Homo sapiens: one gene and its partner. The main gene of each other region encodes a partner of the protein of the gene in region 2 in a complex. Each region holds a gene or a part of one and is shown on either strand. Other genes may lie near its edges.

Region 1 (4,259 bases), on a different chromosome or scaffold from region 2:
CCTAAGCACGCTCTGCAGTGTCAGCATCACCTGGCAGTATGCTAGAAATTAGAAATGCAAATTCATGAGCACCAGCCCAGACCCATTGAGTCGGAAATTCTGAGGGTGGGGCCCAAGAATGTGAGTTTCAACAAGTTTGAGAAGGACTGCGTCTCCTATATGAAATGGAAAACAGCTGCTCATCCTCTGTATCCTTGCATAATAAAAAATGATTAGTGTCACTATGCCACCATTTCCTCAGCGAAATAATTTCCATCCCCCCACCGCCTCCGAGGGTCTTGCACTCTCACCCAGGCTGGAGTGCACTGGTGCAATCACAACCCACAGCAGCCTTGTCCTCTCGGGCTCAAGCAATCCTCCCACCTCAGCTTCCTGAGTAGCTTGGGACTGCAGGCGCAACCACCACGCCCGGCTAATACGGCTAATATTATTTTTTCATTTTTTGGAGAGACGGGGTCTCGCTATGTTGCCCAGGCTGGTCTGGAACTCTTGGGCTCAAGGGATCCTTGTGCCTCGGCTTCACAAAGTGCTGGGATTACAGGCGTGAGCCGCCGCGCCCGGCTCTAAATAATTTCTTATCGCCCTCCCTCAGTTTGTTTTTCCTGTTATCGGGTCACCCACACATTCCACAATTGTCAAATAGGTGAGGGCACAGGTACGGAAGCGTCCCGCATTCCCTCCAGATTTTATCACGCTGAGACACAAAGAGAAAAATAGCTCCTGGCGACCGCATGAAAACCCCGATTTCAAAACAGCCACATGCAGTTTAATTTCCTTAAAAGCTTAGCCGGAAAAGGTTTCTGTGGCTTGCGACCCCAGCTGGGCTTGAGAGAAGGCTCTGCACACTGGGGCGGGGGCGGGCACAAGGTGATCGGAGGGAGGGGGATGACTCGCAGTTGTGTTTTGAGTGGTTGCCTTGGGTTATCTTGTTCCTCCAGCACACACACACTCAGTTTCTTGTCATAAGGGGAACCCTGTTATTTTGTAGACAAAAAGTGACAGAAGCAACTTTCGAAGCAAAAAAAAAAAAAAAACAAAAAAAAACAAAACCAAAAAGACGAAGAAGAAGAACAAAAGTCAACGTGAAATCTCCCCAGAGGAAAAGGAACCGCGCTGTTTGTCCCTCAGTAACTGAGCAACACCCCGGACACGAAGGGCTCCCTGTGACTTCTGCGGTTTTTCTTGCACTTCTCCGCGTTGGTTCACTTCCACCCTCGAAACTCTCCAGAAGCGAGAAATAAGGCGGGGTGGCCGCCACCCCCAGGCCACCAGCTGTGCGGGGGCCCCAGCTGCAGGGGGTCCCGGCCCAGCGTCCCTCTCGGCCCCTTCCCTCTCCCCCGGGGGAGAAGGGGCGGGTCCACGCGGCCTGGGCGCTGCGCCCGACACGCGGTAGGGGTCGCTGCGTCTCGGCGCGCGCTCCCACCGCGGTGAATAACGGGGCCTGGCTGGAGGAGAAAGGAAACCTGCTGCGGGAGGCGGCGGCGACCGGCCAGGGAGCGAGGGAGGAGAGTTCACTTTTACTTCAGTGTCAGCGCGCGGCGGCCGTGGCTGGCTCTGGCGAGAGAGCACCGAGGGAGTGGGTCGCAGATCTTCGGGCGGCTAGGGGAAATCGGCGAGAGGCGGGATCCGAGCGCGCCGGCGGGGCGCAGAGCCCGCGAGCCTGGCCAGCGAGGGTAGCCGCGGGGGGCGCGCCCCGGGCGGGCCCCCGGAGACGCGCAGGATGCCACACGAAGAGCTGCCGTCGCTGCAGAGACCCCGCTATGGCTGTAAGTGCGCCGGGCGCGCGGGGTTCCTGCTGGCCTTGGGGAGCTCCCTCCCCGAGGACGGCGTTGGAGAAGCCGAGGGAGCCGGTTGCGCGGCGCAGAGGAAATTGGAAGGCAGCAACTGCGCGGCTGGCAAAGTTGGGAGCTGGAGTTGCAAAGGGCAGTGAATCGCGTCCCCCCGCTCCTCCCGCCCCCCAATTCCTAATATCCAGCTGGCAACCCAGACCCTCCACTCCGCATACCCAAACGGGGTGCGCGGGCAGTGCGGGGATTGCGCTCTGGGACAGACCAGGTTGGGATTTTAGGGGTATCAGGTGAGGAGTCCGCGGAGCTCCGGGTCGCCGCCGGCTTGGGCCAGGGGGTGGCGTAAGGCACCGGATTCTTCCAACCCAGAAGGGGAGGAAAGTTTGTTTGCTGTGGCTACAGGTGGGCACCGCAAGTAGGGCGCCGGCGCACTCTGCTAGTGCAAAGCCGGCTTGACTGGAAGGGCGGGAGTCTCCTCCTGTCCCGCGCCCTCGAACTTCACCTGACCCGCTAGAGCCATTGGCCTCACAGGTGTAAGTCCCTCCCCTCTGAAACCCCCCAACCCCTTTCCCCCCCGCTCCCCTCGCGCGGGAGGATTGCTGTGTGGAGAGGACGCGGCACTAGGCTCCGGGGAATCCGGCGGGAGCCCGCGTGACTTGAACGAGATGGTGTCGATTACCCAGCCAGGGGCTGCCCTCGGAAATAGGTTGCTTTGGCCGATCGTGAGTGGATGGAGCCAGATTAACACCAACCACGTGGCTTCATGTGCAGAGTTCAGAGTCCTAAACATGTGCCAGGAAGCATTTCCTTTAAAACAAACAGAAAGTTGGCCTGCTGTCTCTCCAAGGTGGCCCTGTCAGTGAACCCAAGGCCGAAGACCACAGGTTAATCTTTGCCCAGGCTGGCCTTGGTGGCAGAGGTACCAGGTTTGGGTTAAGGTGGTGATACCTTCAGCAGGGTGTTTTGTTTGTGTGTGTGTGTGGTTTTGGATGGTGCGTAAGGCCACTGACTTGCTTAACTGAAAAAGGGCTCCTCAACTTGTGTAGGTTCTTTCCCCTCCTCCCCGCTGGCGTGTCAAAGATGGGAGGTTATCTTTCCTGTGTTACCCTTGCAGTGAGGGGGAGGCCTGAGGACTACAGCCTCTGTACTCTAATGCATTCAGCAGTTGACTGAGACCCAGCTTTTTGCCTTTTGGTAAACCACACAGACAGCAGAGCCTCTTGGGTTCAAGAGGGAACGCTGTGCTCATTCAGTGTTTGCAGTGCCAACCTCAGGTGGGACCCAGCTTTTTGCCTTTTGGTAAACCACAGATACAGCAGAGCCCGTTGGGTTCAAGGAGGAATGCTGTGCTCATTCAGTGTTTGCAGTGCCAACCTCAGGTTGGTGGAAGTACTTTAATGTGACCAGCTCTCAGAATATATGGTGGCTTCACTGTGTCAAATGATAAGATAACCACAAACTTCTGCAAACTAGGTGAATCTACATGAACAAATGATTTCTTGCTATCACATGATTGATGTCGGCCCTCATGAGCAATAAATAGTGCAAAATTTCCGTGAATGTGGTACATGAATGCAGCATTTCTGTCAGTCCCTGCATGTGCATCTGTGATGCTGCTTGATTTTCACGGAATAAATCTGTGTTTTAAGTGCACTCCAGAAGAAGCTATCAAGGGAGTCCAGATCTGGCAAGCCTGAAGCCCACTCCACAGGGCCGCTTTCTTTGGAAATCTTCATCCAGCTTTCTTCACCAATGTGGTGTAAGGGGGTGGTGTGCCATCTTGTTGGAATCACTCCCGGTTACTTTCCCTCCACTCATCAAGTGCTGGCATTCAAGTTGGTCACTTAACACTGTCAAAATGGAAAATATTTGCCTATGTTTCCAGACTTTCTTGTCACCCTGAAATATTAAGGCTTTAATATGACAGTTATCTCATTAAAATGAACACTTTTATAATTTTGGTTTATGAATGGTGTATTTTCAGTGTATTCAGAACATGATATCTAGCAGAATAGATTTTGGCGTTAATAGGCATTACCTAACATTACCTATTCATGCAGAAGAGGGCTATTTGGTGTGTTAGTGTAATTTCTGGTTGTTGTTGGCTTTCTGAGCCTCCTATCAACATGAGACTGAAAATCGTGCTGTGAGCTCTTCATGGGAAGGCTAGGGAAGGATAACACAGGATTGTCCTTGCTCTGTTGTGTTCTAGGGCTGTGCTTTTTCTTGTTTATTGGTTTGGTAAATACAGTTTCAGTAAAACCTCAAATTATAAGAAACAGGTGTTACCCCTAGCATTTAAAAATAAAGTAGCAATACATTGTAATTTCAGTTCTAGTGCTGAACGTTCTGAGTATAAGATGTTTGAGACTGGGCTTTAAACACAACTTTTTGGTAGTTTGAATTAAGTTGTCTATTGCTTATTTTGGGTCTGAGCTTCTGTTCTGCTCTCTCTCCTACCCACTTGACTCC
Region 2 (3,500 bases):
ATTACACTAGCATAAGTAGACTTTGGAATGGAAGCCAGCTTTTCTGATTCTTAGTCTAGTTTTGGATATGAACAATCTAGTAAAGGAGGGTTGTTTTTGAGTCTCTTAAGTGTGATTTAAGAAAATAATCTGTTTGGTTTGAGAGCTTAACCACATTCATTCAATTTCTTTGTTCCTGTTTTTAAGAACCGACTTTCCTTTAACTGTCATCTCCCTCATGCCCTTGCTTCTCTTCTTTACATTTAAATAAGCTCTGGAACAATCTGTTAAAACATAAGTCAGAAAATCAGAGTAGGTACCTAAAAGTTAAGTAGGGCTGGTCTTAAAATGTGGCATTCTTCTCCTAGTTGGAAAGCTTTGCTTTTCTTTTTATAGATATCATTTAATTTTAAAATTTTTACTGTAAATTGACAGATTATAGTTGTATATGAAAGCATTGCTTTTCAATTGTAAATTAATTCTAAAGACTCCAGAATTTGTGTTGGGTCTTTTCCCATTTAGCATTGTTAAACCTCCCATTTTCACAAATAACTTCGTACAACCGATATTAGCATATGCTTTACTGAATTTGATAAGGGTTTTATGGTCTATTTACATATTAAGCATCTTGTTAAAGAAGATGTCTTAGATCATGCAGTTTGTGCCCAATAACATGAATTTTACTCATAAAATTCCCAGCTGGCTGGGTGCAGTGGCTCACACCTGTAATTCCAGGACTTTGGGAGGCCGAGGCAGGTGGATCATGAGGTCAGGAGTTTGAGACCAGCCTGGCCAACATAGTGAAACTCTGTCTCTACTAAAAATACAAAAATTAGCTGGGTGTGGTGGCATGCACCTGTAGTCCCAGCTACTCAGGAGGCTGAGGTGGGAGAATCGCTTGATCCCAGGAGGCAGAGGTTGCAGTGAGCCGAGACCATGCCATTGCACTCCAGCCTGGATGACGCAGTGAGACTCTGTCTCAAAAAAAAACTTCCCAGCAAATAATCTGCCAGCTTTTTCTTGGACACTTTGAGTACTTTGAGGGAACCGTTATTTCTCTCAAATGGGCTTGTTTATAACAAGGCTCATCTTTTCTAGGACTCTGAAAGGAAGAAAGGTCATGGATCTAGGATATTTTATTTCTAGATGAAAAGGAAATGGTCTATGAAGAAGTAGTTTCTTAGGAATCAGATTGAATGTTGAGGTAGACCACTGTCTGAAAAGTTTCAAACTTGAACAGGTTCATTTTGTGTAGCTAGAGGACTCTGCTCCTGTGACACCTCTAAACCTTCTCTGGCTCTTTATCCAGGCTGCTGGGGTAGAGCAGAAATCTCAGAACACATCCTTTGTCTTTTTCCAGGAATCATTTAGCTCATGCAAGGACTGGTTGGCAAGATTGGTTATATAAGGATGATGGATGGACTAGGGGACGATTAAGTCTTAGCAAGGAAACACTGCCTTAGCTTAAGAGTTGTCCTGTCCCATTTTAACTCTCTCCTTGCACACTAACAGTGTTGTATTTTTTTGTTTTTAGGTTTTTGACAACTATGCAGTCACAGTTATGATTGGTGGAGAACCATATACTCTTGGACTTTTTGATACTGCAGGTGAAAACTTAATGTCTTTTATACTGTTTTGATCTTTAACAGTTGCTAGTTGTCTGTCTCTTGTGGACATTTTGAGAAACTAGCACATGAGCAAAGTACTTGCCTTTTGTTATTAGTTAGCAGGATTGAATATAATGATTGTCGATGCTTGACCAAGGAGCAGTCCCAGACCTGGGTCGGCAAATAGGAGTTTGGAGTACCCTGGGTGAACAGTGTAGTAGATGAAGTAGAGTGAGACTAGAGTGCATCATACAAGCTCCAAATTGAACTAAAATCCTGATGCGTGCACCTTGCAGAGAACTGGGGACTGCATTAGTGGTTGGGGAGGGACTAAGGGAATGAATTCATAGGAATCATGCCCACTGATTCTCTCCCTTCACCCCTACCTGCTCCTTTTTAAAGCCTAGAGTTTCCTAAATATGCCTAAGGTTATAAGGTCATAAGCCATTTACAGTATTTATTATTATTACTCTCTTGATATTTGAAGGCATATTCAATTTATGTGTCTAATAACATGTTTAGTTTCTTACGATAGATAGCTTATTTTAAACTGTATCTGAAAATATTTTGAGAGTGAACTATTATCTGCTCACAGTATTGACATTTGTCAGCTATCCAAATTGTAAGAACAAATTACTTTCTTCCTTAAATGTACCTAATTCCTCAGTGCTATTTCTTGTTTTCAAGAGTGGCTGCACATCTTAATTTCTGACTTTTCTCTATGTGCCGTCTTATTATCAGCTCAGTTAGCCAGAGGAAAATCTCAGAAAGATATCCTTTAGAGTATCTTTAGAATGTAGGAATTCTAAACTTTGTGCTTTGAGTTACTGTTACTGTTTGCAAGTTAACATGTTGCTTCCATGGAATGTGGTGTTACACTGTGTACCACGAGGAACTATTTGGATTTAATTGAGAACGTGAAATGGAGAGACAGTAAAGATTAGAGAAATTTTTAATACATTAAAATCATAAAAGTAATGGTATATTAAATTTGGAATATAGAGAAAACAATGACCCATAATGTCATGATAAATGAGGGGTTTTCTTCTGTGTTCATTTGTGTCCAAAGGCACAGAGAAAATTTTTATTTTTTTTTTTTGTTGAGATGGAGTTTTGCTGTTGTTGCCCAGGCTGGAGTGCAATGGTGCAATCTCGGCTCACCGCAACCTCCGCCTCCCAGGTTCAAGCGATTCTTCTGCCTCAGCCTTCTGAGTAGCTGGGATTACAGGCATGCGCCACCATACCCGGCTAATTTTTTTGTATTTTAGTAGAGGTAGGGTTTCTCCATGTTGGTCAGGCTGGTCTCGAACTTCTGACCTCAGGTGATCCGCCCGCCTTGGCCTCCCAAAGTGCTGGGATTACAGGTGTGAACCACTGCGCCTGGCGAGAAAAGATAATTTATGGCTACTTGTGGTTGAAAATTAGTATTTTCAGATTTCAAAGTTTATTATTTATAAGCCTTTACATTTTCTGGCGAGTACTTTTGAAAGCTTTTTTGATGCGTAGTGCAATAAAAATCATTTTAAGGCCAGGCGCGGTGGCTCACGCCTGTAATTGCAGCACTTTGGGAGGCTGAGACAGGCAGTTCACCTGAGGTCAGGAGTTTGAGACCAGCCTGGCCAGTATGGTGAAACCCCATCTCTACTAAAAATACAAAAATTAGCCCAGTGTAGTGGTGTATGCCTGTTAAGTCCCAGCTACTTGGGAGGCTGAGACAGGAAAATTGCTTGAACCCAGGGGGCGGAGGTTGCAGTGAGCCGAGATTCTGCCACTGCCCTCCAGCCTGGCTGACAGAGTGAGACTCCGTCTTTAAAAAAAAAAAAATCGTTTTAAGTGTTCAGTGTGATGCATTTTGCTGACCCTCCACCATAATAAAATGTGTAACATTTTTATCACCCCTCAAATTTTCTGTGG

What was found. The genes of interacting proteins can lie anywhere in the genome.
Region 1: the proteins of CDC42 (region 2) and IQGAP2 are in contact, whole or in part, in a crystal structure (PDB 5CJP), measured with the Homo sapiens proteins. Residues at the interface, in NP_001034891.1 of Homo sapiens: Gly12, Ala13, Ile21, Thr25, Asn26, Lys27, Phe28, Pro29, Ser30, Glu31, Tyr32, Val33, Pro34, Val36, Phe37, Asp38, Tyr40, Phe56, Tyr64, Leu70, Gln74, Gln116, Leu119, Asp122, Pro123, Ser124, Thr125, Glu127, Lys128, Lys131; in NP_006624.3 of Homo sapiens: Gln893, Thr894, Asn924, Tyr925, Ser927, Asn928, Gln929, Arg930, Glu931, Glu932, Arg976, Gly977, Asn979, Gln983, Asp1067, Leu1068, Leu1069, Pro1070, Tyr1071, Lys1191, Phe1192, Asn1193, Lys1196, Tyr1197, Leu1200, Val1201, Thr1202, Val1203, Ser1204, Lys1205.

The regions. Positions count from the first base shown.
Region 1 is NC_000005.10:76,401,826-76,406,084, forward strand, and holds the start of IQGAP2 (ras GTPase-activating-like protein IQGAP2), read left to right. Parts: upstream 1-1,459; 5' UTR 1,460-1,720; coding exon 1,721-1,766; intron 1,767-2,498; exon of another isoform or gene 2,499-2,550; coding exon of another isoform or gene 2,551-2,671; exon of another isoform or gene 2,672-2,706; intron 2,707-4,259. UniProt on the Homo sapiens protein: Binds to activated CDC42 and RAC1 but does not seem to stimulate their GTPase activity. Associates with calmodulin.
Region 2 is NC_000001.11:22,080,209-22,083,708, forward strand, and holds part of CDC42 (cell division control protein 42 homolog isoform 1 precursor), read left to right. Parts: intron 1-1,513; coding exon 1,514-1,586; intron 1,587-3,500. UniProt on the Homo sapiens protein: Plasma membrane-associated small GTPase which cycles between an active GTP-bound and an inactive GDP-bound state. In active state binds to a variety of effector proteins to regulate cellular responses. Involved in epithelial cell polarization processes.